Regions from separate parts of the Homo sapiens genome. Here region 2 is linked to region 1. Evidence: fine-mapped expression QTL. A gene starts in region 1. The other region holds a variant in brackets. All regions are shown on one strand. Distances are between the middles of the regions.

Region 1 (12,779 bases):
CAATCAATGCCCTTGTGCTAATATTATAAGTGGCAAGGCTCTGGAATAAGATAGACCTTGTTTGAATCTGGCTCCAACCCTAACTAGTCACATAATTTTGGGAAAATAGCTTAAATGGTTGCTACAGACTGAATTGTGTCACCCAAATTCATATGATGAAGCCCTAACCCCCAGTGTGATGATATTTGAAAATATGAAGCCTTTGGGAGATAATTCTTTTATGACATCAGGGTCTTCATGATGTGATTGGTCCCTTTTAAAGAAAAGGCATCAGATCTCTCCCTGTCTCTCTGTGTCTGTCTCTGTCTCTCTCTCTCTCTCTCTCACACACACACACACACACACACACACACTCTCTCTCTCTCACTCACTCTCTCTCTCCCTCAACGCCCACCAAGTAATGACTCAGTATGAATATGGCTGTCTGCAAGCCAGAAAGAGGGCCCACACCAGAAACTAAGTTGGCTGGCACCTTTATCTTGGAACCCCAGCCTCCAGAACTGGGGGAAATGCCTGTCATTTAAACTACCCAGTCTATGTTATTTTGCTATAGTATTCTGAGACTCAAGTCGACTAAGACAATAGTCTTCTCTAAAATGGGGAAACTCTGCCTCATAGGGTTGATTTGAAAATCTAGTGACATAAAGCACATACATTATATTTTACAGTCTTCTAGTGCATCATGAGAAATCAATATGCGGTAGGAATCATTGTTCTTAGCAAGATAAAGACATTTAAATTATTGATACTATTGAGTATCAGTAGTATCAATAGCATTGAGAACTATTTCACACTATTGAGTATTTAGGACATCAAGGTCTTCAGGATGTGATTGGTCTCCTTTAAAGAAAAGGCACCAGATCTCTCTCTCTCAAAAGTGTGAAATAACTTTTCACGCTTCTCAAGATACTCAAAAGTGTGAAATAACACAAATAGTTCCACACAACTGAAACTTTGGTATATGCAGAAGGGTATGGAAAATGAGGTCAGAATGGTAAAACAGTAAGCTACCTTTTTTCATAAAGGGAGGAATGGAAGTTTCACTGTGAAAAAAACAGGTACATAATTGGGAGATTTTATGCAATAAGAGGATGAATTGAAGGCAGCACACTCATTCCTCAGCTAGAAATTAGAAAAAACAGATGATGATGATGATGATGATGATGATCTTTATTATTATTATTATTTTGAGATGGAGTCTTGCTCTGTTGCCCAGGCTGCAATGCAGTGGTGCAACCTCAGCTCACTGCAACCTCCACCTCCCAGGTTCAAGTGATTTTCCTGCCTCAGCCTCCTGAGTAGCTGGGACTACAGGTGCCTGTCACCACACCTGGCTAATTTTTGTATTTTTACTAGAGATGGGGTTTCACCATGTTGGCCAGGCTGATATCGAACTCCTGACCTCGTGATCCACCCGCCTCAGCCTCCCAAACTAGAAAAAAACAGATTATTAAGTATTAAGGAATTTTTCTGCTGGTTGTCAAATATTTTGCATTATAAAGGCAGCAGAGGAGGTGATATTTATACCACAGGAATCGGCAATTGCTACAAATCAGAGCTCTTCTATAGTTGTTATAGTTAGATTAATATCTACGGTTTTGCAACTACGTTCTATTTGTTACATTTGTTCTTTGTTTCTTTGCCCCTCTTTTCCTGCCTTTTATGGTTTTAACTGAGCAATGATTTTTTTCTTTTCTTCTCAACATATGAATTATACTTTTTAAAAAGTTTTTTATTGTTTGGCTTAGAGTTTCAAAAATATAGCTTTAACTAACTTAAATCTATCTTTAAATATTACTATATTGCTTTATGTATACAACACATACCATATAACAGAAAATCCCCATTCCTCCATTTTTTCCCTGGCTCATTTCTTGTATTTATATACTATAATGACTGAATACATCATTACTATTATTACTTTAAAGAAAGTTATCTTTTAAATCAATTCAGAATCAAAATTTTTAAAATTTAATTGACTTGCATTTATGCCTTCTCTGATGGTTTTCTTTTCTTCATGTAGATCTGATCTCCTTCACTTTTGAATAATAATTTTGCCAGATATAGAATTCTAGATTGCCATGTTTTTTCTTTCAATACATTTAAGCATTTCATTTTATATTCTTCTTTCTCTTATTGCCTCCAATGTTTCTGACAAAAACTCCACAGTGATTCTTGGAATTGTTTCTCTATATATAATACAATATTTTACTTTCCTGACTTTGATCAAGATTTTTCTTTGACTTTTCTGCAGTTGAAATATAAAATGTCCAGATATGATTTGTTTTTCAGCATTTGTCACAGTGGATAATATCTGAGCTTCCTGCATCTGAGGTTTTGGCTCCGGTTGGTTTTAAATATTTCTTGGCAATTATTTCTCCAAATACTGATACAGGAGATAGAAAGAAATTATCTTAGGCAGATAGTGAGGGCAAAAGAGTCCTTGGCAGAACTTCCCTTCTAACAAAAAGAAGCCCAAAAATCACTTATTTTCTAATAAAGAGCAGCCTGAAAGATCGAACTGCAAACATAGAGAAGGAAGCTGGGAGCCTGCATGGGGGGATGCTGGCAGCTGCACCAATAGAAAAGGCTACCTGGTACCAGGCGTGTTCACCATGGGGTTCCACCTTTCCTTTTTTGTTAGCATGTGTACAGTAAGAAAGAAATAAGCAACATGGAGTAGCTACCCACCTGCATAATAAAAGATGGGGGTAGGGGCAGCCAGAGATTTGGGCCCTATGCAGATGGCACAGCTGGTCCTAACCAGTTTTTCACACCCTGCATAGATCAGACACCGTCTCCCCACTAGCTCATCTATAAAAATCTCTGCATTTCACAGCAGATCAGCAACCATTTTTCCAGGAATCCTCTCTGTAGCAGAGAGCTATTCTCCTTCTTTTGTCTATTAAAATTCAGCTCTAAACCTCACACTTTGTGTGTGTCTGCATCCTTGATCTCTGTGGCCATGTGACCAAGAACCTCAGGTGTCACACCAGACAAAGAGACCATTTCAGTACTTTTTATGCTTCCTTCTTTCTTTCTTTCTGGCTTTTCGATTATGTATTTGCTACATCTTAAGATATCCCACCACAGTTATTAGATATTCTGTGGGCTGGAGGGTTTAATATTTTTTTCCTTTGCATTTAGTTTTGGAAATTTCTATTGATCTATCTTCAAGGTAACATTCTTTTCTAGATTATGTCTGGTCTATTGATTATTTTCAATTTCTGTTACCATTGTTTCACTTCATACATTTTTGTTTGATTTATCTCTTAGTGTTTTCTTCTCTCTGCTTATGTTACCCATCTGTTCTTGTATGCAGTCTACTTTTTCCATTAGAGCACTTAACACATTAATCATAGTAATTTTAGATTCCCTGTCAGCAAATTTCCACATGAGGATCATATCTGAGTCTGCTTCTAATGGTTCTTTTGACTCTTGAGACTCTGTTTTTCCTTGTCTTTAGCATAACTTGCTTTTTCTTTCTTTCTTTTTTTTTTTTGTCAAAAGGAAGACATATATGATCAGGTAATAGGAACTGAAATAAACAGACCTTTAGTATGAGATTTTTTGTTAGTCTGGCTAGTTGTTAAAACGTTATTTACTTTTTGTCCTAAATGTCGGTGCCAAAGGCTTCAGAATCCTTTACTGTCCTTTTTGTCTCTCCTCTTGCCTTTGAACTTCCCTGAGCATCCTCCTCAGAGAGTCTACCAAGAGTAATCAAGAAAAATAAGGGAGGATAATATAAATGGCCAGTATCAGGAATGTAAAGGGATGGCACTACAGATATTAAAATGGTAATAAAAAATTATGAAAAATATTATGCAAATAAGTTTACTTACGTAATTCCTGTAAAACAAAAATGTATTACAAAAAAAATCCTGTGAAACACAACTTACCAAAACTGTCTTGTAAGGAAATAAAACAACTAAATATTTTTATATCTATTAGAGAAAGAGAAGTTGTAACAAAAATCTTTCCGTAGTGAAAGTTTTGGGAATAGACACTTTATGAATTCCATCAGACATTTGAGGATAAAAGTTTACCATGTCTATACAATCTGTTTTAGAAATGCCAGTTTGCTGTCACACCAAAATTAAAGATATTACACAGAAACTAAACAAAAACCAACTCTCACATGAAAATAAATGCAAAAACACTTTTAAAATATTGAAAAATTATACTTACCAATATACTTATCAATATGACAGAAACTAAACAAAAACCAACTCTCACATGAAAATAAATGCAAAAACACTTTTAAAATATTGAAAAATTATACTTACCAATATACTTATCAATATGACAGAAACTAAACAAAAACCAACTCTCACATGAAAATAAATGCAAAAACACTTTTAAAATATTGAAAAATTATACTTACCAATATACTTATCAATATGATAAATTATAATGCATCATTAAAAGTGTTTTATCTCAGGGATATAAGATTGGTTCAACATTTAAAACTCAATCACCTTTCCCTCTTCCTTGAGAAAGAGAAATCTATTTACTTGAGAGACAAAAGGAGAAGGCACCTGATTGAGGTGGCTGATGGCCATGAATGCATAAAGCAATCTTGCTAACTGAGGCTCTCAACAAATGGGTTTTGTTCTGACTCTTAGGGATAATTAGAGAAAGGTTTTAACACTCTCCATTTCCATTTTCCTCTCTGAGATCACAATAATTATTACAAGGCTTTATCCAGGGGTTTACAATGGACTTTAAAAGTCCCAAACGTGGTTTCTTGGTGTGATTGTGTAAGAGAAAAGCTTCAGCTGACTTAAATTTAAAAGAGTTTAACTGAGCAGTGAATGTTATTCAGGCAGCCTCCCAAGCCAGAGTAGGCTCAGAGACTCCAGCACAGCCACATAGTGGAAGATTTATGAAGAGAAAAAGAAAAGTGAGATACAGAAAATGGACATGAGATAAAGAGCTGGATTGGTTATAGCTCGGAGTTTGCCTTATTTGAACGCGGTTTGAACAAGTTGGCCACATTTGATTGGCCAAAACTTGGTGATTGACACAAGCATATACTACAGTCTGTTTACACTTCCATTTAGGCCATCATTCACGCTGTATGAGAAACCTTTAGGCTGAACTTAGAATATGTAAGAAGGCAGCTTTAGGCTAAACTTGATTTAACATTGCTTTTGATTTAACAAAGCAAAAATAAAAATAAGTAATTATTTTTGCTTTTCTCCTTAGAGGCTTTCTGCCGTCTCCTAGACTGACGACTGGGTACAGATTGACAAACGTTTTCTATAATAAGCCATACAGCAAAATCTTTACACTCTGCAGCCGGATGGACTCTGTTGCTAGTCAACTCTTCATTGCACCATGAAGTAGATATTGACAATGCATAAGTGAGTAATCACAGTTGTGTTTCAATAAAATTTTACTTACAAAAGTGGATGGTGTGTTAGTATTGTCCCACAGGCAGTAATTTACTAACATCTTGGTTAGAACATTAATCGGGTGGGAACTTTTCCTGAGGACTTTGAATGAGCATCGGAATTAGTACTTCAGATGATAAAAAGTCATGAAGGTCCATCCAAGACTTTTACCCCCTTATCAGGAGCTCTCGTATGTTCTATTAGTGAGCTTTCTGTGTGATGGCACAAATTGCAAATTATTGCCCACTGCTTCAGAATCAGCACAAATGCACATTTTTAAAGCATTTCTTTGCTTCATCTATTACAATTTTATCTGCACAGTATGGATTATGGAGCAATGTTCTGAATTGTCTTCATTGGTGACAGTAATTTGTATGTTGTATGCTGGAGTCCTAACCAAAGGCATTACTCTACATGAAATGATTACCAAAAAGGGGAAACAAAAATGTCCTGAAACATGGTAATTTCTACCAAGTTTCCTCTACTCTCTGACCTTTGAATTGGGGTAACCTGACCTTCCTAATATCCCTCTCTACCTACTATCTTAAGACCAACTTAGTGTCTCTACATTAACAGCAACGTAAACCTATAAAAGAAAACCATGAACACTCGAAGGTATTTTTGTGGCCATCCTTCCAGATCCTCCTTGCTTTTTCTTAACTTACTTTTGCTTTGATAAAATTATCATATGGCTCCAAATCCAGACATCAACTATCCTCTCCATGACCCTAGTTTGTACTAAGGCGATCAGCTTTCTTCTGTTCTGTAGATGGCCTCAGATCATTTGTATTATTTGTGAAGGAAACCAAAAATACTTCTCAAAATACTTAGGACTGTTAAGTTAAAGACAGAAAATGGAGGGGAACATGCTGCCTCAGGCACTATTTGCCTGATGGCAGGACATAAATCCGTATTTACTGGAGAAAGCACTTGCTTTTCAGCCCGGAGAAGGCGCCACCAGGAACCTGAGGAATCTGGGAACAGATTTTACTACCTTCCCACGTTTTCCCACCTTTTAAATGACTGGAACTGCTTTCTCCTTTGCTTTTCACTATATAGAACGTATGGCTCTTTATTGAAATACTATTTAAACAAGGTTTCTAAGCCACAGCCTGGAGAGAGAAATACTTTTGAACTGAGGCCTATCCCTTGTGATGAGTAGAGCACACATTAATAAACTGCTTGTTTTTCTTTTGTTAATTTGACGTTTGTTTTCAGGAGAGTGTCAACTAATAACCTAAAAAGGGAAATTTAAAAAAAACTTGTTTTCTCCCCTACAGCTGTATTTCGGGCCCCATTTTCCACTCATGGCCACATCCTGCTTGCAGATCTGCTGCTGGGTTAACACAACATCATCTGCCAGTTGGTGTCGTTTATTTGACATCTTGGGGTTTTAGTACTCTGAAGGACACCCACTGCCCTTAACAGAAAAAATACTGCTGAGCAAAGGGTTTAACAGGACTCTCGGTCTACCAGAAGTTCAGTGCATTTTCCAGGATTTTCAAGGCTTCGATGCTGTCATGTTGTGAGCCCACTATCCACTTGTGTTTTTCCATGAATAATGAAGGAAACCTGAGGAATCATGAATGTAATCATTGAGGTAAAATAACCTAGTCATAGTCAAGAGGACAGCTAGTGTTAAACTCCTTTATATATATTTGAGAAAGGATTTATATATTCATAATAACTTTCTGATCTGGAAAGCCCTAGGTTTGTCAACTATTAATAACTGGGTGAATGCTTCAGGTAGTATTTAAACCAACTGCTATTTCATAGCAGACATTCTCCCATGCAGGAGATGCAGTAAAGTACTGGTAGCAATAGATGCTCCTACCAAGATCTCCCCCTGCAACCGCACAGGAAAGGAGGGAGAAGAAACCACCTTGCTTCTCTCATATTTGACAATCATTCATCGGAATAGAGGTCCCTAATGTCCCACATGTAAGTCTGCTGGTTAAGAAAGTTCTAAGATTGGAACTCCATTCAGATATCAACATTTGTAAGAAAAAAAATTTTAAATATAACTTTGATACAAATTTTACTTTGATTAAGATACCTACAGGAAAGAAACTGTTCATTTTCTCTAACAGGATGGAAAGCAAAAAATATGGGTGGGAGGAGTCTGCACGTTGTTTCACAACTTCTCTCTCCCCAGGGCAAAGCAGAGTATGAGGAAGCCAGCACTAGTCAAGTGACTCTAAGAAGGGCCATTTTCCCTTGTTGTCTTTGAAAATACTTCATTTTCTTAGCATTTCAGGAGATTATAACATCCTGTATTTCAGTTTCTGAGAGCTTTACTGACTGATTTCCCTATTCAAAACAATCCTCATTTCCTACATTTCTGAAGATCTCAAGATCTGGACTACTGTTGAAGAAATTCCCAGTAAGGTGAGTACTGTGGGTATTTTTTATAGAAAAGATCTAGATGCTTCCTTGAAAGCCACAAAATCACAAGGGAAAAATCGATATTGGTTCTTCAGGGCAGTGGGGTGAGGGCAGTAGGGCTGGTATCAACTATATTCAGAAAAGTGAAAACTGCAGTTAATACTTCCAATTCTTTACTTACTTCAAAGATAGTAGATATCCTTTATTCTACAACTGGGGCATGAATGAAGGAATATGCATTTTGACCATTGCAGATTTTAAAACAAATTCTCTGAGTATATATTCTCTGAGGTTAGAAAGCTTGGTGGCCATTGGGGTCTGGGCAAAAGACAAGATAATGATTTCATTCTTTTTTATGGATGCATAGTATTCCACGCTGTATATGCATAACATGGATACGGCTAGAGAACATTACCCTAAGTGAACTAACACAGGAATACCAAATACTGCATGTTCTCACTTATAAGTGGAAGTTAAACATTGAATCCATATGGGCACAAGATGGGAACGGTAGACGCTGGGGACTGCTTGAGAGGAAAGGTGGGAGCAGTATGTGGGTTGGAAGGCTATCTATCTGGTACTATGTCGCTACCTTGGTGATGGGATCACCAGACAACAAGCCTCAGCGACACACAGTTTACTCATTTAACAAGCCTGCACATGTACCCTCTGAACCTAAAATGAAAGTAGAAGATAAAATAAGACAAGATAATGATGTGCACAAAGTATCAGGAAATAATATTAAGTAAAAAACACATCTAGACATACAGCTGTATTTTACGGTATCTCAATTTTACAAAACATGTTCTCACACAAAAACATATGTGAGAACATTTTGTAAATAATATTATTCTACAAGTGCAAACACATAGTAGAAAATGTATCCATTTTGCAAACACAATTATTCAAATAATTCAAATAATTCAAATGTGTCAATATTTTCATAAGTATGTTTAACTTTTACATTAGCATCATTCTATACCAGATGTGAAAGGCAGTTTTTTATTCATTTTAAGATTACTTCCTGCCCTCCTGAAAGTTAATGATGTTTTATTTTTCTAGTGGCAATGTATAGGGGAGAGGCATGGAAGTCAATTTGAAATAGATTTATATTGTCAAAGTTCAGAATTTTTAGAAGACTTTCTGTATAGCCTGGTGCAATATCTCAGTGTACTTGACTAGAATATGAGATTTTAAATGTTGATTTCAGGATTTATATATGTTAGATAAATATTGCTATCAATTATGTTGCTCAAATTTGTAAAAATGTTTTTTTACCTTGTTCATTTAGTATTGGAAGATATAATATAGAACCTCCTATTATAAGACGGTATTTTCTTGTACTCCTCTCAAATTCATATATATAATATATAGATATGCTCACATGCATAGTTGTATAATGTATATTATGTGTGTATGTGATCATGCATACATGTTTCCAAACATAAACATACACATATAAATATATATATTTGTGGCACCGTGTACATATGTGTGTATATGAAGATAAATATATTATATAACATTATATTATCATGAAGGACTATACAATAATGAAAAATAATATACATTTATTATTATTAGATAAATCTATAATTTAAATTATTGTATCTTCCCAGGAATTCAACCTTTTACCATGTGGTATCTGATAATACTCTTTGTCTTAAGATCTTTTAAAAATGATTCTAGCATAGATAAGCTGGCTTTCTTCTAGTTTCTCCTTGCATGATAATTTAAATTTTTTTTCATCTTTCAGTGATCTTTTACTGACAACATACATATAGAAATTTTAAATCAAATTTGATAAAAGTTGTCATTTAACTAGTTAACCTCTTTATGTATAGGCTAATAATTAACATATTTTGGCCTGCTTCTGCTATCTTCACTTCAATTTATAACACTTCTATATTCTCCTACTTGTCTGTTTTTAAAACTTATATTTCCATCTCACCCTTTAAGACAATTACATTAGTAAACTCATATTCTTTTTCTTCCCTCCCTCCACCATGTTGGTATACTTTCTGTTTCTCTTTTCTTTGATCAGGGCTTTCTTTTTAAGTCATAGGCACACATAATCAAGTTCGTTTTTCATTCTTACTTGTCTTTTGGCCTGCAGCTTTTTAAAATTTTTTTTTAATTTTCTATTGAAAAGTACTTCCAAAAATGTTTCTGTGTGCATCTTTGTCTGGAAAAACTACTGAGGCCTTCAGGTTCAGAGAATAGTTTTTGAGGATCTTATGTTTAAATATCACTTTGTTTAGATTGAAATTCTAGTTTTAAAATTATTTTTTCCTTCAAGACAAGATGAGAGCATTTCTTTTGTACCTGGGGGGCTCGGTATGTTTTGAAAATCAGAACTTGGAGGTTTATAAAGATTACTTAATGCACATTTTTCTAGAAACCCCAGTGTTATCAGTGTCATTACTACAAAAGCAAAAGCACTAATATTTCAGCATCAAAACATATGAATATTTGTGTTTAAGTGGAATAAATAAAAATCATACATAGCCTTCTGTAAGCTCACATCTGGTTTCATTTTGCAAATAAATCGTGTTGTCATACTCACAAAACAAATCAAAACTTCCCATTTCTAAACTTTTTGTTTAGCAATTTATATGGGACTTTGGGCCAGCATTATATAAAAATGATTCCATTCTCCTCTTTCAAGTAGATTTGTTGTTGAGAATCAGTTTCAATCTAATTTTTGGATCTTTGCAGGTGATCTAAAGCCTTCATTCTCGGAGGCTTATGGAGTATTTATTTGTTTTTTATGTTCTTCAGTTTCACTATATGTCTTTGTATATATTTTTTCCTTCATTCTATGCTTATCAATCTGAGGACACTCATGTTCTCTCAAGAAGAAAGCAATTAACAGCCCCAGGAATTTAAATATCTAAATTACACAAGAGGTACACAAATACATGTTTTCTATAATTAAAATATTTGTTTTTGTATTTATTTTTATCGAGGTGGAGTTTTGCTCTTGTCACTCAGGCTGGAGTGCAGTGGCATGATATCTGCTCACTGCAGACTGCACCTCCCGGGTTCAAGCAATTCTGTTGCCTCAGCCTCCTGAGTAGCTTGGATTATGGATTACAGGCACCCACCACCATGCCTGGCTAACTTTTGTATTTTTAGTAGAGACGGGGTTTCACCATGTTGGCCAGGCTGGTCTTGAACCCTTGACCTCACATGAACTGCCTCCCTCAGCCTCCCAAAGCGCTATGTTAATTTAAAAAGGAAACAGGAATCCATAGCATGCTTTGAGTGTCATCATGTGCTAAAGTGCACTGGTGCTAAAGAGGTCCAGAGGAGTAACACTCTGTCCATAAGGGCACTCTGAAAATTTCTAGAAGACAAACTCTCAGTTGAGTCTAAAATGTTGTAGGAGAGGCAGTCAGATAGAGGAATGTGGGAATGGCTTTCCAGGCAATGAGAAGAGAATTAGCAAAGTCATGAAGCATGAAAATGTTTTATACTTCTGAAATGTAAGATATAAGGAACACACAAGTGCCAGAGGTTAAAAAAAAAAAAAAAAAGAATGCAGATTATTCAAAGTCTTCTGAAACAATACAAGAAGCAAGGAATGTATTGAAAAGAAAATGGGCAAATATTGAAAGATTTCAGTGGGATAAAAATGTGGTTTATAGAGAGAAATGTGGATCTGTGAAATGAAAATGAATTAGACAAATCAAGCCTAAAAGAAAAATCAAGCAACTATTGAAATATTCCAGCCAATAAATCCTGTGTTCCTGCAATAGAGAAAATGTAGATGTTCAGGAAAGTGATAGTTTTATGGGCACAGAGGACAAATATGGCAGGGTCCAACACCAAGGAAGAGGATACTGATGAGAGCTGACAAGAGAAGAGTTAAGGAGAATAGGGTCGGCGCCCCAGCATGAAACTGTAGTGCTGCGGCAGAAAGTTATTCATATAAGGTGGGAGGCTGCAGCCCATTTACACCTAGGCCACTCCAGTCATAGTGGTGGGTGTGGGAAGATTTAAGAAACAACAGGCAGGTTTTGGGGGATAGGCTCCAGCCCCAGTAAAGGATGGGAAGAGCAACCAAGCACTTTGACACTCCACAGCCCATACTCTAAACACTGAGACAATTGCTTGTTCACAGACCTCCCTCTAACACCTGGACCCAATTCAACTATCCTCATTCAATGGGATGAATTACTTGGACATTCCTAAAGCAAAAGTTCTTCACTCAATTTCTACAGTAACTCATTTGGTCATTAAGTCCTTCTTTATCACACATATTCATGGACAACTCTTTCTTTTATTATTATTATTATTATACTTTAAGTTTTAGGGTACATGTGCATAACGTGCAGGTTTGTTACATATGTATACATGTGCCATGTTGGTGTGCTGCACCCATTAACTCATCATTTAGCATTAGGTATATCACCTAATGCTATCCCTCCCCCCTCCCCCCACCCCACAACAGTCCCCAGTGTGCGATGTTCCCCGTCCTGTGTCCATGTGTTCTCATTGTTCAATTCCCACCTATGAGTAAGAACATGCGGTGTTTGGTTTTTTGTCCTTGCGATAGTTTGCTGAGAATGATGGTTTCCAGCTTCATCATCCTGATACCAAAGCTTGGCAGAGACACAACAAAAAAAAGAGAATTTTAGACCAATATCCTTGATGAACATTGATGCTCAATAGAATACTGGCAAACCAAATCCAGCAACACATCAAAAAGCTTATCCACCATGATCAAGTGGGCTTCATCCCTGGGATGCAAGGCTGGTTCAACATACAAAAATCAATAAACGTAATCCAGCATATAAACAGAACCAAAGACAAAAACCAAATTATTATCTCAATAGATGCAGAAAAGGCCTTTGACAAAATTCAACAACCCTTCATGCTAAAAACTCTCAATAAATTAGGTATTGATGGGACGTATCTCAAAATAATAAGAGCTATCTATGACAAACCCACAGCCAATATCATACTGAATGGAGAAAAACTGGAAGAATTCCC
Region 2 (13,938 bases), 45 kb after region 1:
ATGCAAATCAAAACCACAATGAGGTAACATCTCACACCAATCAGAATGACTGTTATTAAAAAGTCAAAAAATAACAGATACTGGTGAGCTTGCAGAGAAAAGGGAACACTTATATACTGCCAGTGGGAGTGTTAATTAGTTCAGCCATTGTGGAAAGCAGTGTGACAATTCCTCAAAGAACTTAGAACAGAACTCCCATTTGACCCAGCAATCCTAGTACTGGGCATATGCCCAAAGGAATATAAATTATTCTACCACAAAGACACATGCATGCATATGTTCATTGCACCACTATTCACAATAGCAAAGACATGGAATCACCCTAAATGTCCATTGACGTTAGACTGGATAAAGAAAGTGTGGCACATGCACACCATGGAATACTACACAGCCACAAAAAACAATAAGATCATGTCCTTTGCACCAACATGAATGGAGCTGGATGCCATTCTTATAAACAGAGCTAAACAATGAGAGAACACACGGACCCAAAGAGGAGAACAACAGACACTGGCGCCTACTTGAAGATGGAGGATGGGAAGAGGGAGAGGATGAAAAAACAATTCTTAGTGGGTATCAAGCTTAATACCTGGGTGATGAAATAATCTGTCCACCAAACCCCTGTGACATGCAGTTTACCTATGTAACAAACCTGCACATGTACCTCTGAACCTAAAATAAAAGTTAAAAAAATAATTTTTGGTCTTACAGTCAACATTCAAATCCAGCCTTAATGAACTCTAAAACTTAAGTATTTCATGGTCATATATTGCTTCCAGAGTCAGAATGTAGATGTTAAAATTTCTGAAATATTTTTCTATATATTTAAAGTCAGACATCGTTATGGTTTGAGTTTGTTTCCATAATTCAGGTTCTGCAAGGCTTCGCATGAGAAATTAGGTAACTGTGACTCACTATTTCGTTCTTTCTCTTTCACTGCCATGTTAAGGCCTATGAATCAGATGCCTATATCTTCAGTAAATGGGCAGGCAACTTGAAGCTAAGGTAAAAGGAAAACTGAGTCACTATCTTCCAATCTAGTATCTTACCCATTACCATATTGCACTCTGACCAACCTTCTTTCTGCATCACTAATACATGTGTACCAGTTGAAGACAGGACTCCTATGTAAGGAGTTCTCATTTTTACATTTTGTTTTGTTGCTGCTTTTGTTCTTTTTGACTGGTGAATTCCAATAATTCATATTTCTCTGTACACTTTCTAAAATTACTATTTGTGGATAGTGCTATCAATCTAACCTATTTGCCATCTTACTTCAGGTGGTTAGATGGAGCCCATTCCTGGTCATTATCAGCTCTGATCCATTTACTCTCTGCTACTTCAAAGACAAACATTTAAAGACAATCCATTTTCTGACGCATAATGGCTTAGACAAAATGGAGTGACAGTTTCTAAGTTCTTTTGTCTAAATATGTAATACAGCCATTTCTACATTCATAGGAATTATTCTGCTGTACATAAACTCCCTTAATACAATAATTTTAGAAAGAGGCATGTATCTCCATGGCCACCTACACCTAAATGTATCATGGACCTTTTCTGCTTTGGTGACCCACTCCAAGGTTGTCTCACCACTCAATCTATGATTCACCAGGTGAGCAGGAAAGCCTTGCCCATTTACTCATCAAGGGTTCACTCAAAAATTTGTGTATGATATAGGTTCATTATGCTTTGGGATCTAAACCCCGAAGAAGACAGAAGCATGACCATCTGTCATGACTCATCTAAAGCATAGATCACAGAATGGCATGAGTCATGATCAGGGATGCTATTAGGGAGAAATTACTATGAGGAAAATAATCAGCAATGATTTAAATTAATATTCAACCAAAGCTAAGATCTTAGGCATCCAAATTCTGCTTCTGTAATGAAAATGTTTTTGTTTATATTTTATTATGTATATTTGTTAATGATTTAGGGGGTACAAGTGCAGATTTGTTACATGGTTAAATTGCGCAGTGGTGAAGTTGGGACTTTTAGTGTATCCATCACCTGAATAGTGTATGTTGTACCCATTAGATAATCTCTCATCCCTCACCCTACTCCCACACTTCCACCTTTCTGAGTCTCCAATGTCTATTATCACATCCCCTCTACGTCCAATATCACTTCTTGGCCTTTCCACTAAGATAACTGTAATATCTGATCTTATCAGTTTTGACTTATTTTGAAGAGATACTTGTTCAATTCACTTTTATCAATGAGATTAGACTACTAGCTTTGGTAGAAGGGAATAGAGACTAGCTTATTTAATATTTTACCCATACCTCCTCAATGAGATTTTCTACAACTGGGTCAACATAAAGCATAAAATATCTGTGAATAGAGCAAACACACAAACACTGCATATACTATAACAATGAAAATAATAATGATATTTCTTCTTATTGAGCATTTACTGGATTCTGAAGTAAAGCTGTGTTTATTATAAAATGTATAGCATATATTCTTTATTGCATATCCATGAAGATACAACCTATATCTCATTTCACATATGAGAATCATGAGGTTCAGAGAAGTTAGAAATCTCTCCCAAGCTAATAAAGATAATTAGTATTAGTTGAAAGATTCATATTCAACTTAGTCAACTAAAAAGTTTTTGTAGTTGAGGGAGTATGTTTCTTCCAGTGAGAGAGAGTAGATATTAAAATATCTGTAATATATCAATAAGCATTTCAAATAGTGTTGAATTTTACATTTGTTTTTATAATCCAGACTCTTCAAGCTTCTAAAACAGGATGAGGTGCACAAGATGGCTAGGGTTTGTTGTCCTCACTTGGAAACCCTCATAAGCAAACTGATCTTTCAGCACTTTCCTTCCATCTCCTTAAGGACAAAAGAAAAATATTATGGAAATCTACAAATAGAAATGAATGAGAGTGATTTGATATTGGAAGTAGAATGTCCTTAATTATTTTCCTTAGTAAAGAGAGTGATTTGATATTGGAAGTAGAACGTCCTTAAGTGCTTTCCTTAGTGCTTAGAGAGAATCACATGTGATTTTCCAGACACCCATTATCCTTACATTAACAAGATATATATATATATATAAAGACATGTTCTGGGAATGCCCTAGTGAAATCTGAAACGGTTGTGATTGCTGTTGGGAATCCTGAAGGATTTTGGATACCTGATGCAAATCACTGGATAAACAGAATCCTGACTGGAACTGTGCTTTCAGAGAGTGCTGATAGCAAAATGAAGATCAGTATCCCCAAACAACTGACAACTGATTTTTCTGGGTCCTGAAGTGCAAACTACAGGAATCCTTTGTGTATTTGCTTGATGAAAATGGCTTTCATCCATTTGGCTAACATTGTTCTGAAACTTACTACCCTTATAACTTAGGAGCATTACTTAACAAAAATAACTCCAGCAGAGGTGCTTGACCAAGTTAGCCTAGATGAGTTTTCACCAGAAACAGAGCCAGGACCCAATCACACACCTACAGAATTTCAGTCAATAAAACGAAGGCCAAAATGCCATTTGTGAATGTGCAGGTGAAGAGGTTAGGATATCTAAAGTTATGCTGCTAGCCAGAGAAAATGCAAGAAGGAAGACAATGTAAAAAGAATAAAAGAAAAAAATAAATTAAAAAATCAAACCAGATAGATGATGATATAGATACGTATAGATATAGAGGCAGATACATAATCAGGCTTCATCTCATAGTGAAACCATTAATCAGAAAAGTCGATCTTTTCTTCAGAACACAGATGCCAGAATCACCCAAACATATGACTCCAATAAGATAGTATCCTTTCAAAGTGTATAGTCTGCATAGGTAAAATTCAGTCATCGGAGAACCTCCAACTCTGAACCATCCTCAGATGTCACAGAAAATGTCACAAACCCCATCTGGTAGTTCTTTAACCAAAGTACCAACTTCTTGTTGCCATTCTTTGTGCCTCCCTTTATTATACTTAAAGGGATAATCAGTATCTTGACAGAGCTTTTCAATCAATCTCTGACTAAATAGTTTTTTATTTTACTATATTTCTCATTCATTTATTAAGTATATAATCAGAGATGCTACTAGATTCTAGGATTTTTATGATTTACAAGGGATACATTGATAAAATCATTCCTGACCTAAAGACATTATTGTGATTTATGATCCAGATATAGAGAAAGAGTGGAGGAGAGTACACAAAGATGAAGAAATACAAGAGTGTGTTCCTCTCTTACATTTCATTGTTCATTCACAGATTTCCCTTTTGCTTCAGAACCATAACTCACAGTTTATTTTCAACATTCTTACTCTTTCCTACATGTTTTTGTTTCATACATGGTACTCCCTTTGTCTGGAATCTTTTTCTCCTATTCCTTCACTGGCCTTTATATATTTTTGGGCCAGCCTAAAACTGTCTTCAAGCAAGACCTCCTGATAACCCCATCCAAAAATAAGACAGATCATCTCTTTGTGTCCTTCACATGTCCATTTATTTCCTTTATAATACTTGTCACCACAGTAATTATAGTATATTTTCAACCCTGTAAGTAATTGAGATTATATATGCTACCTGCTCAGGTAAGTAAAAACAAAGGTCCATGAATGAGTTTATATCTGTGTGTATGAAATCCTATTCCATGCTGCCTTTTACTTACCAGTAAGTTGGACTGTGTAGTCACCTGCCTCTGTGCCACAGCACCCTCTATCAGCAGTGAACAAGAAGTCAACTTAGAGAAAGAAAAGGGGAGTATTAAGTCTTTATTCTCTCATCTAGTTTTTCACCCAGGCCCCAAGATCCACACTGACCCAGCCTACAGCCTCAGTGACTCCCCCACACCTATGAGTTGAAGACAGACTTATTCTTTACAGGAGTTTGCTATATGTGACTGGATTTTTCTTTATTATTTTGTTATTGTTACCCAAAGTTCATATTTTCCTGAAGAGTGTCTACAGATTTTATCTGGTGGATCAGTAAGCAGGCAGTCATCTTGGCAGAAGTGGCCTCAAATAGACCCCATGCCTAATCATTTCCAGCTCAGATCCATTTTCTCTTATACTATATGCTAGTTTCTGTGTATGCTGAAATGTGGGTTAAGAAAACTAAATGTATGCCAGCATCCAGAGAGATTAGCAGAGGGAAGATTCTATAAAAAGGGATTTTCACACACACACACACACACACACACACACACATATACACACATGTATTACATCCAACTTATATAGGAAAATATTAAGCAGAAAAAACCAGTTCTTTCTGTCATAAAGTGAAAGACTAAATTACCCAAATTTATGACTCCAGAAGGATGAAACCCACCCAGGAGCACAGTCATCGCCTGCAAACTTTAGAATCACCTCACCAACTGTGGCCCCTCCTCTTTCTTCTGACACTTCCACCAACCGCCATCCAGCAGTTCCTTAAATAAGGTACCACCTTTCTATTTGCATTGCTGTACCTCTAAAATATAATTGTAGGGGTAATCAGAGTCTTCAAAGGGATTCTCATTTAAATTCTGACTATATATTATTTCATTATTTTACTACATTTCTCATTCATTTATCAATATATAATTGGACATGCCACTGGATTCTAAGTCCTTCAATACTCACAAAATATGCATTCATGAAATCATTTCTGTCTTCAGGAAGATTACTGTTTTTCATTGGTGCAAATATGGTGTATGTGAGGAGGTATCCAGACAAGGAGAGATGAATACAACAGTATGTTCGTACCTTCTATTCCAGTTTCCTTTCACAATTTTCCACTACGACTAATGACCATAACTTAGGATTGATATTCAAAATCCCTGTTTCTTTCCATAGCTAGTGTCTTGGCATATGCTACTTCCTTTTTTTAGAATCCCTTACTCTCATCTCTTCATTTGCCCCAATATATTTCTGGGCCAACCAAAATCCCCCTTCCTCAGAAAAATACTGCACTGATATTCTCCTCCTGCCATAGAACACATCATGCCAAGGTGTCCTGAACATTTCTCTTTATTTTATTTAGAACATTTATTAAAATTCTAATAATAAAGTGTTTTTCAACCACACTTGATAATAAGTACAGTTTATAGATTTCTTGTCCAGAGAACATCAGACAAAGGTGAACTAATGAATTTATATCTAAGTGTTCCAATTGAATCCCAGCCTGCTTTTGGTCATGATATGACCAGTGGAGTCACCTCCACCTAGGGAACAGAAGACTATGATCTACAGTGAGAGGGAAGGTGATGAAAGAGAAAGGCAAGAGGAGAATCATGTCACCACTCTTTTAGTTGAAGACATGTCACCATACAGACTAGTTGAAGACAGATTACCTATATACAGGAGTTCTCAATTTGTGGTCGTTTTTTGGTTTGTTTATGTTTTTGTTGTTTTTGATAAGCCCGAGAATCACATTTTCCTCAATAAATTATATGTAATTTATTTGAGAGTCAAAGCTAGCACGTCCTCTTTAGCCATCTTGGCTTAGGTGACCATGGATGGAACGCATATGTAGTCATTACCAGCTCAGACCCACTTTTCTGTTACTTAATAGACATAATTGAACATCCCAGGACAACATTCTGGAAAAGAACTTATTTTTCCTGCATTTTGGCTTTGAAGGGACTACGCAAAGTTTGCCTAGGTTCTACCATTTTAAATACGCATTATGGTCTGTTTCTATAGCCGTTAGATTTATTTGACTGCATCTAAACCTCCCTTAGCCCAGGAATCTCAGCTAGGGTCCTATGTCTCCTACACCTAACCTCCCATATAGCCATTTCTTCTTTGATATCTAGCACTTCCACAGGATGCCTGGAAAATACATCCTGTTACTTCCTCTGTGATTCACTAGCTCTGAAAGAAGTCCTTGCTTTTGTATATCATAGATCATCCCAATAATACTGTGTTTGTATTAATTATTAATTTGTATAAATTTTTCTATGCTTTTGGATTTAAAGTCAAAAGCAGACCATTCTTATTTTTCATCTTTTGTCATGACTCTCCTAAATCAAAGAGCCCAGAATGGTTGGGAAAACAAATGGAGATATTACTGGCTCAGAATTACTATATGGGAAAAAACGAAGCTATTAGTTTTATTCCCAATCACTACAACTTTATCTGGGTTTTCCACAAGAGGATCAACATAAATCATAATTCATTTCTGGATCAGGCTGACATAAAAAACTTGCATAGTCTTTAAATAACAATGAAAACAATATTTTTCTAACTGAGCTTCTACTGGGTAAAGCTGGAAGTGAAAGTTATGTTTTTATGTATATGATTGCATTTACTCTTCAATACACCTCTTATGAGCACAGTAGAAAGACCATGTTCCAGGGAAAAAACGTGTTCTGCTCTAGACAAGTTAAGTTTGAGATTCCCACAGGACATCTAAGAATTATCCATCTGATATATAGAGCTTAAACTTGGGTAATTTTGGCTGGGCCTTTTACTGAATTACATCAATAGAGACATAGTTGTTAAAACAGTGGATGTGACTAAAAGTACCTAATAGAATGGAAATAATGATGTCTCTCATTTACTGAGTAT[G/A]CAGAATGACTCAGACTATTCTAAGGGTTTTTCAATAATTATCTTCATTAATCCTTTATAATCCAATTGTTTCACATATTAGCTCATTCAATTATTTGTGGTACACAATGAACAGAAGAGGGAGTTAAATTTGAGGGTGGCCAACATACCTCATAACAGTCCTAAATTACCAAGGATGTCCCTAAGCAAATCAGAACACAAAGGTAGCTGTCTTTTGTGAGAAACATCTCTGTGTAGACAGAGATGGTTGGATCTACATGACAAAGTTTATGCTGTTTGTCACATATATTCATGTGGGATTCTTGGAACAAATAAAGGCTAATATTGGAATGCAAAAAGATCAGAATAAAGGCTAACACATTCAGACACACAAAAATGCAAAGGCTTTCTGATTGCTCCAGTTCTCAGGGCCATTAGTCAAAAGTCCCAAGCCTTCCTTGACAGCAGTTGCACCAGGAATACATTTTGTACGCTCCTCCTACCTTTCTGCCCAATGAGAAGTTTCCCTTTAGCCCTTGTCGTTGGACACACCAGCTCCTTTCTCTATCTTATTGTTCCCTGACATCTCCTGCCCTTTCACGTGGGCTCATGCTGGGTAGGAGTGAATATCGCATTTCATGGTCCCAACAGAGGGGGAAGATGTGACTCCAAGGACAGGATTCATTAAAGGAGATAGATGAGAATGAGAAAAGAGTGCTTCAGATGGAAATAGAAGAAGAGATGTGGCTCACAGGGAGGAGAGGCAGTGTGATTGAAGAAAGAAATGTATGACTCCCTGCATCTCAACGGGTTTATTTTTATCTCTTTATGCTTCAAGGTCACCAAGGACAAGGATATCAAATAACTACTGTTCAATCTTTACTCAAGTGTGGAAATTTTGCCTGAAGTCCTCCACCTAAAAACCTGATGCCATTGGTAATGATGTTTATGAAGATAAGATCAAAGCACAGAAAATAATATATGTATATATATCTGGTTGAAATACTATATATATATATATATATATATATATATATATATATATATATATATACCAGCTATTAATTCTAGGAAATGGAGTATTAAGGGTGCATTTTATTTCATTAGTTTTACTTTTATGCATTTTCTTCATATCATATTTTGCATTCAGAATTTTCATAATTTGAAAAAAAATAAACTTTTTTTTCTTAAAGAGTGCTTCCATAGGAGTTTCTTTAATCTATCTGTGAGTTATGTAAAAGCAAATAAACTGTGGCCTGCAAGTCAGGGTGGGGCACACAGATTTATAGTTTGGATGGGATCTTTAAGGAATAGGCCCTGGTTAAGACTGAACTGACTGTGCCCTGCCCAAAGAATCCAGACCAAGGGGCAGGTAGGGGTGAAATCCAGCCTGTGATTCTGTTGCAAGCACTGTGTCCTGGGAAGGAGTTGCTCTAGCCAAAACTAGAGATATCTTTTCAGAATTGGACTCCTGGAGGGGGAATAATTGGGTAATTTTCTTGCCAAACCAGGCACTTTCTGGTGATGTGCATGAAGGCACTTGCCTATGTTAGAGGAATTCCTGGCCCTGTTTGATGTAAATTATCTGGTTCTATACATTTCCTTCAGCACCAACAGCTCCTCAGGAGCTCTCCCACCATATTCCCTCTTCTCACATTCCACTATATGAATCCATCAGAAAGTTGCCCAGGCAGACAGTTAACTTAGGCAAACTGAAGAATAATTAATTTATTTTAGAGTAGAATGGCAGAAAGTCAGTATCTAAAACTTACAATGTATTTATGGATCATATATTTGGCACCTGGTGTAATTATTTTGTGTCATTTAATCTTCACCGTAGCTCTAGAAGGTTGACAGTTTTCTCCTTTTTACTCTCCATATATAAAGAAAAAAGGGCACAGAAAGCAAATTTACTTTCGAAGTGACACTTAGGTGGTCTTATATAGTCCTTGATTTAACATCCAGGTCTGTTGTTCTGGCTTGGGTTAGGTGTGCTAATGTTAGGAGAACAGGGATAAGATGCAAATTAAACAATGAATAAGACGGATTCCACCTAAGATGGAGAAAGCTGAAAAGAGCCTCACTCTCACCCTTAAAATTATGAAAAAGTAGATAAATGCAAAATAGCAATCTTCTGTACTCATCAGAGAACTGTGGTGATCTGAAGCTATATATGCCCAATTAATCTAAGGAAAAGAGGCATTAAAGTTCTGCCTTTATGGTTTGGACCAACAATCCAAGGAATAAATGTAGTTTTTTTTTCCTCTTGCCCTGCACCTTTCCGATTATGTCTTTTATCAGACATAAAGGTAAGAAAGTATGATAGATTCAGATACCATGAATAAGTTTTTTCAGACATTCTTTATTGCCAAATATCATTGCTAATATTCATATGTGTGTGTGTGTCTATACATATATATATATATATATATATATATGATAATTTGGTTCACTTGGGAAAATCAAATTTTGAAGGATGTTTTGAAGCCACCGAATTTTTTCCTCATGTGCAGTGAAAAAACTGAAATTCAGAGATTGAGTGAAGTGGTCAAAATCACATCATTCAGCTAGTTAGGAAACAGATTTCATCTTGAGAAGATGTCACAAACTGCTAAAACATCCTCCAAATTCAAATTTGACTTATGGACACTGAGAAAATAACTGCTTTATATGCAAATGATATTGGTATTCTGAGCTACTCAAATACATAATATTCATATTACTTTACATAAACTAGGTATAATGGACCACTCTTGAGTATGTAGATGATGGTAATTAACAGTTAGAGAATGGGTCATTTAGGTGCTTTGTCTAATGTGTTTGCTGATTTCTCCCTGAAATTTTAACTTCTAAGGACAGTCATGTCTGTAAATGAGATAGGAAAGAAATTATCTTCCACCCGAAAGAATTAGCCTGTTCACTGTGTTTTAATTTAAACAGCGTCAACCTCTAATGCCTTGACCCCACTCTATCTTATATTTTTATATCTTACTACACATCAGAGCTCCTACTTGGGACCACAAGTAGGTGAGAATCTGGGGCTTCCCCTAACTTTGAAATGTGTGAACCAAAGAGAAAGACAGAACAGCTCACAGAGATCTAACCTACCCTCATAGACATCTTAGAGATCAGTTTGTACCAAGTGGTTCTCTGCAAGAGGCAGTGAAATAGCTCTGAGAGGATCTCTAGTGTATTAGCAAATGATTATGATTGGAAGAGGCAAATCCAACACTGTTAGCAACATTATTTCTCTAAAACCACATAGTGAGGCATGTATTAGAATTTTATGATGATAAGAGCACGTGAGATCAACCACTTAACAAATTTCAAGTTTACAATACAGTATTAGGAACTATAAGCACAGTGTTGTGCAGCAGATCTACAGAGCTTATTCATCTGGCATATCTGAAGTTGTATACCCATCGAATAGCAGCTTCCATTTCCCCCTTCCTCCAGCCCCAGCTAACCACCATTTTATTTTCTGCTCCTGTAAGTTTGGCTATTATAGATACTCTACATAAGTGGACTCATGCAGTATTTATTCTCTTATGAGTGGCTTATTACACTTAGCATAATGCCCTCAAGTTTTATTCATGCTGTAACTATTGCAGAATTTCATTCATGCTGTAACTATTGCAGAATTTCCTTCATTAAGAAAGAATAACATTCCATTATATATACACACCACATTTTCTTATCTATTCATTCAAAACTGGGACATTTAGGTAGTTTTCACATCTTGTCTATTTTGAATAATACTGTAATGTACATGGGAGCGCTAGTAATATCTCTTCAACTCCTATTTTAATTATTTTGCATAAATACCAAGAAGAATAAATCTTGGGTCATATGGTATTCATATTTTTTTCTTCCAACTTTTATTTTAGATTTAGGGGCTACATGTGCAGGTTTGTTACATCAATACATTACATGTTGCTGGGATTGGCATACAAATGATTTTGTCACCTAGGTAGTAAGCACAGTACCTGATAGGTAGTTTTTCAGTCTTCACCCTCCTCCCACCCTCGACCTTTAAGTAAACCACCAGTGTCTATTGTGCTTCTTTTTGTGTCCTTGTGTACTCAATGTTTAGCTCCTACTTATTAGTAAGAACAAGTGGTATTTGGTTTTCTGTTCCTGTGTTATTTTGCTTCAGATAATGCCTTGCAGCTGCATCTATGTTCCTGCAAAGGACATGATTTGTTGCAGGAAGTCAGGGACCCCAAATGGAGGGACTGGCTGGAGCCACAGCAGAGGAACATAAATTGTGAAGATTTTGTGGACATTTATCAGTTCCCAAATAATACTTTTATAATTTCTTATGCTTGTCCTTACTTAAATCTTTTAATCCTGTTATCTTCATAAGCTGAGGATGTATCTTATCTCAGGACCACTGTGATAATTGTTAACTGTACAGATTGATTGTAAAACATGTGAGTTTGAAAAATATGAAATCAGTGCATCTTGAAAAAGAACAGAATAGTAGCGATTTTTAGGGAAGACAACCGTAAGCTCTGACTGCCTGCGGGTTTGGGCAAAACGAGCCGTATTTTTCTTCTTGCAGACAGCCTATAAATGGATGTGCAAGTAGGAAAGATATTGCTAAATTCTTTTCCTAGCAAGGAATGTTAATATTAATACCCTGGGAATGGAATGCGTTCCTGGGGAGAGATCTATAAATGGCTGCTCTGGGAATGTCTGACTTGTGCAGTTGAGATAAGGACTGAGATACACCCTGGTCTCCTGCAGAACCCTCAGGCTTACTAGGGTTGGGGAAACTCTGCCCTGGTAAATTTGTGGTCAGACCGGTTCTCTGCTCTCGAACCCTGTGTTCTGTTGTTTAAGATGTTTATCAAGACAATACATGCACCGCTGAACATAGACGCTTATCAGTGGTTCTGCTTTTACCCTTTGTCCCGTTCCCTCAGAAGTATGTGATCTTTGTTAGACCTTTACTAGTGGTTCTGCTTTTTGCCCTTTAAAGCATGTTATCTTTGTACCTACTCCCTGTTCTTACACCCCCTCCCTTTTGAAACCCTTAACAAAAACTTGCTGGTCTGAGACTCAGGCGGGCATCATGGTCCTACCGATACATGAAGTCACCCCTCGTGGCCCAGCTGTAAAATTCCTCTTTGTACTGTCTTTATTTCTCAGCTGGCTGACACTTGTGGAAAATAGAAAGAACCTACATTGAAATATTGGAGTCAGGTTCCCCCAGTAATGATTTTGTATTTTTATGGCTCCGTAGTGTACCATGTTGTATACGTACCACATTTGCTTTATCTAAACCACTGTTAATGGCCATCTAGATTGATTCCATGTCATTACTATTATGAAAAGTGCAATAAGCATACACATGTACTTTGGGAGGCTGAGGTGGGTGGATCATCTGAGGTCAGGAGTTCGAGACCAGCCTGGCCAACATGGTGAAACCCTGTCTCTACTAAAAATACAAAAACTTAGCCTTTTGTGGTGGCAGGCACCTGTAGTCTCAGCTACTTGGGAGCCTGGGGCAGGAGAATCGCTTGAACCTGGGAGGCAGTGGTTGCAGTAAGCCAAGATTGTGCCATTGCACTCCAGCCTGGGGGACAAGAGCGAGACTCTGAATCAAAAGATAAAGAAATAAATAAACAAACAAACAAAGAAACCATATACAAGCACGTATCTTTTAGTAGAACAATTTATATTCCTTTGGGTATATACCAGTAATGGGATTGCTGGGTCAAATGTTAGTTCTGTTTTAAGTTATTTGAGAAATCTCCAAACTGTTTTCAACAGTCGCTGAAGTATTCAGCAAATAGCATCAGGATCACTGGCTAGCTGTATGAAGAAAATTAAAACTGGACCTCTTCCTTTCACCATATAAAAAAATATGGCATATAATTGGCATTTCCACCCTCAATGTATAAATGTTCCCTTTTCTCTACAACCTCACCAGCATCAGTTATTTTTTGACTTTTTAATAGCAGCTATTCTGACTGGTGTGAGCTGGTATCTCCCTGTAGTTTTGATTTGCATTTCTCTAATGATTAGTGATATTGAGCATTTTTCACATGCTTGTTAGTTGCATGGATCCTCTTTTGAGAAAGATCTATTCATGGCTTTTAACCATTTTTAATGAAACTGTTTGGTTTTTGCTTGTTGATTTAAGTTCCTTATAGAGTCTAGATATTAGACCTTTCTCAGAAATCATAGTTTGCAAATACTTTCTCCCATTCTGTAGACTATCTTTTTATTCTGTTGATAGTCTAATTTGCTGTACAGAAGATCTTTAATTAGATCTCACTTGTCAATTTTTGTTGTTGTTGCTACATTTGCTTTTGGAGTCTTTGTCATGAAGTCTTTGCCAAGGCTAATGTCCAGAATAGTATTTCCTAGATTTCTTCTAGGGCATTTACAGTTTTAGGTTTTACATATATAAGTTTTTTTTAACTTTATATTGAGTA

Evidence for each region. PIP is the estimated chance that this variant, and not a neighbour inherited with it, causes the effect.
Region 2: its variant is fine-mapped to the expression of PYHIN1 in whole blood (TOPMed, PIP above 0.99). The same link has a PIP of 0.9 or more in blood mononuclear cells.

What each region holds. Positions count from the first base shown.
Region 1 is chr1:158,923,993-158,936,771 of GRCh38, forward strand. PYHIN1 (pyrin and HIN domain family member 1) reads left to right here and starts at 7,560. Exons shown (of 9, transcript NM_152501.5): 1 at 7,560-7,784.
Region 2 is chr1:158,968,371-158,982,308 of GRCh38, forward strand. PYHIN1 (pyrin and HIN domain family member 1) reads left to right here. Exons shown (of 9, transcript NM_152501.5): 8 at 5,277-5,401; 9 at 8,331-8,689. The coding sequence ends at 5,396. Among named protein-coding and RNA genes, the nearest start is that of PYDC5, 27 kb to the right of the region's middle. The variant G/A (reference allele first, on the strand shown) is at 7,514.